3 linked regions of the Homo sapiens genome follow. The protein of the gene in region 1 purifies or fractionates together with the protein of each later gene. This does not show direct contact. Each region holds a gene or a part of one and is shown in the gene's direction. Other genes may lie near its edges. The genes, in order: KIF23, PHLDB2 and CEP170.

The links.
Region 2: the proteins of KIF23 (region 1) and PHLDB2 purify together in Homo sapiens (affinity purification with mass spectrometry; 2 studies listed by BioGRID and IntAct, with this or other methods). This does not show direct contact.
Region 3: the proteins of KIF23 (region 1) and CEP170 purify together in Homo sapiens (affinity purification with mass spectrometry; 2 studies listed by BioGRID and IntAct, with this or other methods). This does not show direct contact.

The regions. Positions count from the first base shown.
Region 1 is NC_000015.10:69,434,708-69,438,361, forward strand, and holds part of KIF23 (kinesin-like protein KIF23), read left to right. Parts: intron 1-775; coding exon 776-855; intron 856-944; coding exon 945-1,064; intron 1,065-1,430; coding exon 1,431-1,554; intron 1,555-1,856; coding exon 1,857-2,015; intron 2,016-3,540; coding exon 3,541-3,654.
Region 2 is NC_000003.12:111,865,693-111,869,346, forward strand, and holds part of PHLDB2 (pleckstrin homology-like domain family B member 2), read left to right. Parts: intron 1-3,654. UniProt on the Homo sapiens protein: Seems to be involved in the assembly of the postsynaptic apparatus. May play a role in acetyl-choline receptor (AChR) aggregation in the postsynaptic membrane.
Region 3 is NC_000001.11:243,245,225-243,248,878, reverse strand, and holds part of CEP170 (centrosomal protein of 170 kDa), read left to right. Parts: intron 1-3,654.

The DNA.
Region 1 (3,654 bases):
GGGAGGATCAGGGATCTTCTCCTTGGGCACGAACGCGCTGACTGGGCAGGAGGCCATAAAGCTCTTGGCCAGAGTCCAAGGCAGCCCCTTCTTCTTGCACTCATCCTGCACGTCCCTGGCAGTAATGTCCAGGCACAGGGCATAGCTGCTCACGTAGTCCATAGCTGCGCGGCCATGCTTGCCCATCACCATGCCCAGCTCCAGCTCGTGGTGCAGGTTGCAGCTGTACGCGGGCATGAGGATGGGCGAGCCCTCAGGTGTGTAGGCCGTGGACAGCTTCAGAAACAGCACGGACTCGCTCAACACCGCGTTGGCATCTCCCTGGTGTGGTCCCCATAGTTCCTCCCCACACAGACGATATTCTTCCCCCACCCCCAGAAGCGGGACGGTGGCCTGGGGGTCGCCATGATTCCTGTCAATTGCCTAGAGAATATATTTTAATATGAGGATATTAAACATCTCTATATAAGATATTCCTTCAGAGAATTTAGGATTTGGAAGAAACCTTATAGTCATTAACTGTAATGTTGCATTTTGTGGAAAATCCTGTTGGTAGAATCCCTGAAGGATGGCTGTTTAACCTTCCCAGAAATACTGCTATTGAAAGAGAGCCTGGACCATGCATAGACAGCTCTTTATATTGAGCCACAAAAATTTGTTATTTATAATTTCTATCTAGTAGTTGTTTGAAGTTGAGATTTTATAGGCAAACAGAACACACTTTAGCTACTATACTGTTGTTCTGAAATGGCGTCTATGTATTTTTTTCTGTCAGGTAATATTAATCAGTCACTAATGACGCTAAGAACATGTATGGATGTCCTAAGAGAGAACCAAATGTATGGAACTAACAAGGTAAGCAGCAGCCTTCTCTGTTCTTTTGTATAGTTTCATTTGTGTGCATTTTTTTTGCGTAACACATTTGGATATGAATGTCTTTGTAGATGGTTCCATATCGAGATTCAAAGTTAACCCATCTGTTCAAGAACTACTTTGATGGGGAAGGAAAAGTGCGGATGATCGTGTGTGTGAACCCCAAGGCTGAAGATTATGAAGAAAACTTGGTAATTTTAATGTATTTGTCCTATAAAGTCTTGAGTTTTTGTCGGGAAAACAGTTACTTGGATGAGCAGAATGACATTTTGAATATTTTAAAAATGGATAGAGAACCATTGATTGTAGAAGTAAACTAGGCTTGGTGTGGTGGCTTATGCTTATAATCCCAACATGTTGGGAAGCTGAGGTGGGACGATCAATTGGGCCCACCTGGGAGGTCGAAGCTGCAGTGAGTCGTGTTCATGCCACTGCACTCCAGCCTGGTGACAGACTGTCTCAAATAAATAAAAATAAGCAATCTTTGCTTCATTTAGTAATTTCTGGGACTTGGATATCCTTATTTTTTTTTAAACTCCATTTGTTTTGTGTTTTAGCAAGTCATGAGATTTGCGGAAGTGACTCAAGAAGTTGAAGTAGCAAGACCTGTAGACAAGGCAATATGTGGTTTAACGCCTGGGAGGAGATACAGAAACCAGCCTCGAGGTCCAGTTGGAAATGGTATGATTTGGTGTTGTATCATTTGTCCACTCATTGGTCTGTCTGTTTCTCTCTTTTTTAAAAAAAATTATTTCATTTAAGAGAAATGTTTACATACCTTCTGAAGAACCAAGCACATAATAATTTGAACAAAATTTAAATGAGCTTATTTTGCATACTATGATTCTTAGGTAAGTAAACTTATGTCAGCTCAAGAAATTGCAATGGTTAGTTGCACTGGGGCTGTATGCAGTGTTAAACTTGTTTAAATAAGCTCTTTCTCTCCTATGTAACTTTTTGTAATTTTCTATAATTCAATACAGAACCATTGGTTACTGACGTGGTTTTGCAGAGTTTTCCACCTTTGCCATCATGCGAAATTTTGGATATCAACGATGAGCAGACACTTCCAAGGCTGATTGAAGCCTTAGAGAAACGACATAACTTACGACAAATGATGATTGATGAGTTTAACAAACAATGTAAGGGCAAAACTATTTGAAATAATTTTATTTAATTATTTTTTTTTTTTGAGACATAGTTTCACTCTGTACCCCAGGGTGGAGTGCAGTGGCACAATCTCGGTTCACTGCAACCTCCGCCTCCTGGGTTCAAGCGATTCTCCTGCCTTAGTCTCCCGAGTAGCTGGGACTACAGGCACATGCCACCACGCCTGGCTAATTTTTGTACTGTTAGTAGAGACGGGGTTTCGCCATGTAGGCCAGGCTGGTCTCAAACTCCTGACCTCAAGTGATCCGCCTGCCTCGGCCTCCTAAAGTGCTGGGATTACAGGCATGAGCCACCACTCCCAGCCAATTTGCAATAATTGTAACTTCTGAAATTGAAAGTATTTTCAATGAATCTGAGTTATATGGTAGATTGCATATTTAAGGAAGTTAAAGAAAATTGTGTCTTTAGAACTTTGAAGCACTCAAGGCATTGTTTGATTAGTATGACAAGGCATTTTTCCACAGCTCTTTTTTGTATTCTAAGGAAGTCAAAAAGAAAAAAGTGAGCGTGTGTTCTTTCTTTTGTTTTTTACAGTGATGGAGACACAAAGAAATATTTTTTAGTTTCCCCTGTCTACATAGTGGGGATTGTAATTGTTTCTACCTCAGGATATGTTGTGAAGATAAATAAGATAAAGTATGAAAATCCTGTAGAACAGTAAATTCTGGTACATAGTGAATGTATCTCAGTGAATGAATGTATCTACTTTTTTTTTTTTTTTTTTTTTTGAGACTGAGTCTCGCTCTGTTGCCCAAGTTGGAGTGCAATGGCGCAATCTCGGCTCACTGCAACCTCCGCCTCCTGGGTTCAAGCGATTTTCCTGCCTCAGCCTCCTGAGTAGCTGGGATTATAGGTGCACACCACCACGCCCTGCTAATTTTTGTATTTTTAGTAGAGACGGGGTTTCACCATGTTGGTCAGGCTGGTCTCAAACTCCTGACATCGTGATCCACCCACCTTGGCCTCCCAACATGCTGGGATTACAGACGTGAGCCACCATGCCTGGCTCTACTATTTTTATTATCATTATTCATTTGAATCTTTACCAAAAAGTTGTGAGATAAAGTGGTATTTAAATTTCCATACTGAAATGAAATTTGCCCAGAAATATTAATTAACTCGCCTAAGTCATAACTAGTAAGTGATGTTCCAAGGATTTCAGCTCAGGTTTAATTAATCCCAAATAGTAGTGTTGTTTCTATTTTTGCGTTTGTTGTTGTGAAGCAAAGTACCTGTAAGGATTGGGAAGAGAATGCTATAGTGCACAGTGAAAGACTTGAGTATTTTTTCAGCATTTAACAGAAAGCTTCTGTGAATATCTTGTCAACTGGAGAATGAAGCTCCTGATTTCCCTCTAAACTTGTTTTCTCATTATAGACTGATTCTCACAGAGATTTGCTGAATAACTACATTTTATCTAGTGTCTGCTAGCAAAAGTTGATATCATTGTTTGTTTTAGAACTGGTGTAAAACTTGACCTGTATGTTTTTGTTTCAGCTAATGCTTTTAAAGCTTTGTTACAAGAATTTGACAATGCTGTTTTAAGTAAAGAAAACCACATGCAAGGGAAACTAAATGAAAAGGAGAAGATGATCTCAGGACAGAAATTGG
Region 2 (3,654 bases), on another chromosome or scaffold:
CTTTCTACTAGATTGGCCACTGTAATAAAAATAACATCCTAACGTAACCATTTCCTTTATTAGATCTTTTGGCCAGAGTTATTAAAAAAAAAGCATTGATTAAAATTAAATTAAACTTAGTCAATTGTTTATCTTGACTTGTTCAAGTTATTTCCCTTCTTTCAAGCAGTAAGTGGTCAAAAGGTAGATAGCATGGAAGGGAAAAATTAAGTGTTTTATAATACTCATTCTGCACAATCAGCTGCTAAGTAATGAAGATATGATATTATCATAATTATTATTTTTACTTTACAATATTTTAGAAACCTACCCCACCCACTCATTTTTTTTTTTTTTTTTTTTTTTTGGAGACAGAGTTGCTCTGTCACCCAGGCTGGAGTACAGTGGTGCGATCCAGCTCACTGCAACCTCGGCCTCCCAGGTTCAAGTGATTATCCTGCCTCAGCCTCCCGAGTAGCTGGGATTACAGGCATGCACCACCACACCCAGCTAATTTCTGTACTTTAATAGTGATGGGGTTTCGCCATATTGGCCAGGGTGGTCTCAGACTCCTGACCTTTGGTGATCTGCCCACCTCAGCATCACAGAGTGCTGGAATTACAGGCATGAGCCACCGAGCCCGGCCTCATGTACTCAATTTGTGATGTAAAGCGAAATGCATTACAAACATGGAAGATGTGGTTGACCTGTGTTTGTTCCACCTCTTGTGAGCCTGTTTGTACCCTGACTATTCCCAGTTCATAAATCTTGGGTTAGGGAATGGGAATTCCAGCAAGTATTTAGGTCTGGGGAATGTTACTTTGGAAAAATTAAATATTACTCTTAAGGGAGTGTCTTTTGATCAGTAGTGTGGGATGGGGCAGGATGGCGGCAAGATCGGAGAGTTTCCCTCCCATACACTCTCCTCAGCTTCCAGTTAAAGTCCACGGAGGTGGTTTCAGGGTCAAGAGAGAGCATCTTTATCTACATATGATCCCCAGGTTGATAATTCTCTTGCTTGAAATTAGCTTTGAGATCAAAAGATCAGAGGGTGCTTTTCCCTGTAGCACTCCTGTGATTAAAGAAGAGTATCTGAAGTTAGTTATCCCATGATTCTGCACTTCACTGGGTGATTACGTAGTAAAGGAAGACCCTTCTAGCTTTACGGGGGACTTGATCAGGATCCTTGGTTAGGATTCTGTGAAGAACTTGACCTAAAGAGCTCCTCCACTCTCTTCCTTAACATAAGTTTCTAAGGGGTGTGTGTGTGTGTGTGTGTGTGTGTGTGTGTGTGTGTGTGTATTTTAACCTTTTAATTGAGGCTGGAATTCTTGATATGGAGGGTTTGACAGTTTTATGAAGAAATCATTATTTGGGCACGCAGTGGTGACACTTAGCTACCCCACATAACGTTATCTTGCAAATATCTTAAATGTGATGGCCTGCTTACTTGTTATCTTGAAAATGTATTTGCTTTCAAACTTCTCCCAGTTACTTAAAAATACATGTATCAGCTTTTAGGAACTTAATTCAGTATGATAAAGAGTTAGTATTTTATACTTAAAAAAAAAATCAGCTAGGAGCCAGTGATATGACCCCAACCTTCTTTGTAAAGTCAGCTACTATAATTTTTAAGGCAGTATACACATTTTATTGATGTTGACTTGCAGAATGCACGTAGCTTTTTTAAAAGATACTTTATCATGAAAAATATTAAACTACACAAAAATTTAAATGTATACTAAAATAATAATAAAATAATAAACAAAGATCAATGTACTTATCACCCAGCTTCAACAATTATTTATATATGCTAATCTTGTTTCATTTGTAAACCTCACTTTACCCTAAAACATGGATTGTTATAAAGCAGATTCCAAACATCATCATATTTCATTCGTAAATAATTTACAATGTAACTCTAAGAGTATTTTTAAGATATATCATCATCACACTTTTAAAAAACCACAGCATTATCATCTAGTTTCCAGTCTGAAATTCTCTGATTGTCTCATATGTCTTTTTTTAATTTTAATTTTTATTTTTTTGAGATAGGGTCTTGCTCTGTCACCCAGGCTGGAGTACAGTGGCACTATCTTGGCTTACTGCAGCCTTGGTTTCCTGGGTTCAACTGATCCTCTCACCTCAACCTTCCCAGTAGCTGGGACTGCAGGCTTGTGCCGCCATGCCTGGCTAATTTTTGTATATTTTGTAGAGATGGGGTCTCACCATGTTGCCCAAGCTGGTCTCGAATCCTGGGCTCCAGTGATCTGCCTGCCTCGGCCTCCTAGAGTGCTGGAATTACAGGCCTGAGCTACTGCTCCCAGCTCATACTTTTAAAAAAAAATGACAGGATCTTGCTGCGTCACCCAGACTGGAGAGCAGTGGCATGATCATGGCTCACTGCAGCCTTGCCCTCCTGGGCTCAAGTGATCCCCCTGCCTCCACCTCTGCCTCTCCGCCTCTGCCTCCTGAGTAGCTGGAAATACAGGCATGCACCACCATGCCTGGCTAATTTTTTAAATTTCTGTAGAGATGGGGTCTTGCTGTGCTGGTCAGGCTGGTCTCAAACTCCTAGGCTCAAGCAATCCTCATGCCTCGGCCTCCTGAAGTGCTGGGATTATGAGCCTCAGCCACCTTGCCTAGCTTCATACATTGTAAAAAATAGATGGATTGTTCAAAACAGGATCCAAAACCATGTCCACACATTGCATTTAATTGGTATGCGCCCTCAGTCTCTTTAATCGAGAATACTTCTCTCTTCCTCTTGTTTTTTTTTCCCCCTTGCCATTTGCTTATTCATGAGTCTTCCTCCCACCCCTGGGGACTTTCCCATATTTTAGAATTAGGTAATTGCATTTCTGTCTTTTTTTTAAAAAAAATATTATTCTCTTCCTTGTATTTTCTGTAATCACAGACAGCACACTTTTAATTTGTGTTGAGCTGAATTTATATATATATATATGTGTGTGTATATATATTTCAATACTTATTGATATTGTCTCCTTTAAATATTGGTAAAGCTCCTTTAACACAAATGTGAGCCTAATTGAAGAAATCACACCTTGATGATTTATGTAAAAGTAAGGAATTTTGCAAGTGTGAGGAAACTAATGACACAAAAGTTTATTGAGGTTGCTTCTGCTTTCTGTCCTCCCCCAACCTGTCCTCTTCACTGGCTGAAGAGAGTTATCACAGGGAACATGCAGCTAAATTACTTGCAGAGTCTAAAGAATATTTTAAAGTTCCTACAGACTAGTCTTACTCAAGGGACTAGCACAAAACTTTTTAAAAAATCCCTATGATTGATGGCTTACCCTCTTTACTAAGAGACCTATAAGATTTCTAACAATTCCTAACGTAAAACAATGTAGACTGATTTAAAAGTAGCCTCTGCTCACAGGAGATGAAGATCCTCATTTGAAATATGGTTATTGCTGTTGATTGTGATTACTTTTAGGAACCTTCGAATACCATCTGGAATTTTTTTTTTCTTCTTCTTCTTTGACAGAGCTCAGACTTCAATACAGCTAGGGATAACAGAAGGGAATCGTAGCCTGGGGTTACACTCTTTTATTGTGACAGGAAGAAGCTGGAACTTCTTTCATATTGTGCTCCACTCCTTCCATCTGCACTTAATGTTCTCATTATCCCCCATCACTCTCCACTTCCTTC
Region 3 (3,654 bases), on another chromosome or scaffold:
CTGAAGGTGAGTGAGGAAAAGGTGCTTATAGGAGGAAATGAGGTTGCATAGAGATTTTATTCATTGATTTTAAGTGCTATGAGCATTCATTGGAGGATTTTGAGCAAAGCCAAAAAATTGGGTTATATTTTTAAAGAATGGCTCTGGGAATTCTTTAAAACACTGGGAACCATGAGATAAGCTAGGAAATGATTGGAATGATCTGGTTTAAGAGACATTAATGGCTTAGACTAGAGCGACAGTAGTGGCAATAGTGAAAGTTACTAGTTTCTGGCTTTAGAGAGTCAAATGTTTTGGATATGTTAAGTTTGAAGTGTCTGTTAAACGCCCAAGTGGACACATCAGGTAGGCAGTTAGATATGTAAGTCAAGCATTCAGAGGAGAGGTTTGGACTGAGGATAGTTAAATGTTAAGCATCACCAGTAGACTTAAAGGGATCTCTTGGCTAGGGAGTTAGACTGAGAAGAGATCCAAGAATTGAGAATTGGTACTTTCCACATGGAAAGCTGAGCAAAAGAGAAGGCGCCATCGAGGAGGATTGAAAAGTGGACAGTGGGGTGTGAGGAAACTGAAGAGTGTGTTGTCCCACAAGCCAAGTAAAGGAAGTATTTTTAGAGATAAGGAGTGATCAGTCCCCTGTATCACCTTTAATCACCTAAATACTTCATAAGAAATCAGGCAGTATCCTCTTTCTTTCTGAATGGTCTCTGAGAAAGCAATTTCCTTTTTTAAATCTGGTTTATCAACATGAATGTTCACAGTTATTCTCCCCTGGCAACTACTAAATCTAAAGCCCTGAACAAAGTTTTACTCATAAAGAGGCCAATGCTGTTTCCTACGTGGATGAGTATGGCAGCTGCTGCTGCCTCTGATGTTTGAACAGGAGAAGCGATGCTGTTTCATAGGAAGAATTTATCAGGAAGCTAGTGATAGTCCAGCTACCTCAGAGGTTTATTGTGGTAGCCAAACGAGGTAGATGTAAAAACCAAATGAAAGGTATAATTGCAGATAGGGGTCTCCTTCCCTTATTGCCCCAAGTGTGGTACCAACTTGATAGTGTTAGATTTGAAGAACTATGTTGGCAAATAAAAATATTTTTCATTTTGAGTCTGTAGGAATAGTTTTTTACTTCCTATGCACTCTATCCCGATAGGCAGTTTCGCACATCATTTTATAATATTCTTGAGGGTAGAGAAAAGGGCTAGAAAGAGGATAAGAACAACCAGGGCAGGCGCGGTGGCTCACGCCTGTAGTCCCAGCACTTTGGGAGGCCGAAGCGGGTGGATCACCTGAGGTCAGGAGTTCGAGACCAGCCTGGCCAACATGGTGAAACCCCGTCTCTACTAAAAATACAAAAATTAGTCAGGCGTGGTGGCGCAGGCCTGTAATCCCAGCTACTCAGGAGGCTGAGGAAGGAGAATTGCTTGAGCCCAGGAGATGGAGATTGCAGTGAGCCAAGATCACGTCACTGTACTCCAGCCTGGGCAACAGGGTGAGACTCCATCTCAAAAAAGAAAGAAAAGAACAACCAGGCTTTGAGATAATAGCTTTTTTTCCCAATCCTAAACTCATCCTTTAATTCTAAACAGTGTCTAAATAAAGAGAATTGAGGTAGAAAAGTAAGCAAGTTAAAAGGCTTCCTTACTTTTTTTTTCCCTAGGCCAGCCAGGAAGACTTTCTTCTTTTAACTGACTTTTTTCTGGAAAGTGTTCAACTGAGTAATGGTTTGTCACATGTTACATGGAATAGAAAAAGTGCAAATTCAAAGCTTAGGGACTGGTTAGGGGTTTTGAACTCTAGGCAGCCAGCTAGAAACTGATTTGAGGAAGCAGGAGGGTGGGGGAAATGAGTCTGCTTGATGATAATAGGGGTAAAGTGCAAAATACTTATTTTGGTGAAAAAGGAACATCGCAAATACAGGACTTTTTGTGGTAAGCTTTTTGAGGCAATAGGACTATAACTTCACAATACATAGGTATCTTGCAGACCTTATATAATATGATTTGCTATGGCTGGTCATTAAATACTTCTCCTTGGATAAAAAATGCATATAATGCATTGCAAATTGAAGGCCATTTTATTTTTTATATTACAAATCTAATCCTAATACATGGCAGAAAATTTAGAAAACAAGATTTTCTACCATTAAGTACTATCATAATCCCACTAGCCAGTAACCCTGTTATGTATTCTTGTCTATTCTGGTTTAATTTGGTAACATTTTATCATGAAGTTAAACTTTCTGGCTCTAACTTTTAATGTGGCATAGAATCTGTCTTCTCAAACATGTAATCTACTTACACACAATTTATGAAAATTAAATGTATTTTTAAAATTGTAAACAACAGGCCGGGCCCAGTGGCTCATGCCTGTAATCCCAGCACTTTGGGAGGCCGAAGCCAGCAGATCACTTGAGGTCAGGAGTTCAAGACCAGCCTGGCCAACATGGGGAAACCCTGTCTCTACTAAAAATACAAAAATTAGCTGAGCGTGGTGGTGCACACCTGTAATCCCAGCTACTCGGGAGGCTGAGGCAGGAGAATCGCTTTAATCCAGGAGGCAGATGTTGTAGTGAGCTGAGATTGCTCCACTGCACTCCAGCCTGGGTGGCAGAGCGAGACTCTGTCTCAAAAAAAAAAAAAAAAAAAAAAAGTAAACAACACTGTAATGGACATTTCTAACTCTGAATTTCTGTGCAAATCAATGTTTTTCTTTGATTTCAACAAATTATGCTTAAAATACAATGCAGATACAAATGCAGAATTCTACTAATTAAACCTTTTCTAACTTTTTAATAAAATTACCCCCTCCAGTTTATATCAGTTTATTCTTCTACCACTGGCATATGAAACTGTGTGTTTCTTCACCCCTTCATCAGTGCTGAATATTACGTATCTTTTTTAAAATTTGCTTTCTTTTTTCTTTTTTTTTTTGAGACGAGGTCCCGCTCTGTTACCCAGGCTAGAGTGGAGTGGTGTGTTCATGGCTTGCTGCAGCCTTTACCTCCTGGGCTCAAGGGATCCTCTCCGCTCAGTCTCCCAGGTAGCTGGGACTGTAGGCATGGGCTGCCATGCCCATCTAAGTTTTTTTGTTTTCTTTTCTTTTTTGTGTTTTTTTTGTTTTGTTTTTTGTTTTTTGTTTTTTGTTTGTTTGTTTTGTTTTCTTGAGATGGAGTCTTGCTCTGTCGCCCAGGCTGGATTGAAGTGGCGAGATCTCGGCTCACTGCAACCTCTGCCTCGCGGGTTCAAGCAATTCTTCTGCTTCAGCCTCCTGAGTAGCTGGAATTACAGGCACACACCACCACACCTGGCTAATTTTTGTATTTTTAGTAGAGACGGGGTTTCACCATGTTGGTCAGGCTGGTCTTGAACTCCTGACCTCGTGATCCGCTCACCTTGGCCTCCCAAAGTGCTGGGATTACAGGCGTGAGCCACCGCACTGGCCAAGGTTTTTTATTTTTTTATAGAGACAAGGTCTCATTTTGTTCCCTAGGCTGGTCTCAAACTCCTGGGCTCTAGCAGTTTTCCTGTCTCAGCATCCCAAAGTGGTGGGGTTACAGGCATGAGCCACCCAATCTGGACAGTTTTGCCACTTTGATGAACAACAACCAAAAAAAAAAACCTTATTTAAATTTCTTTTATCAATAACACTTGA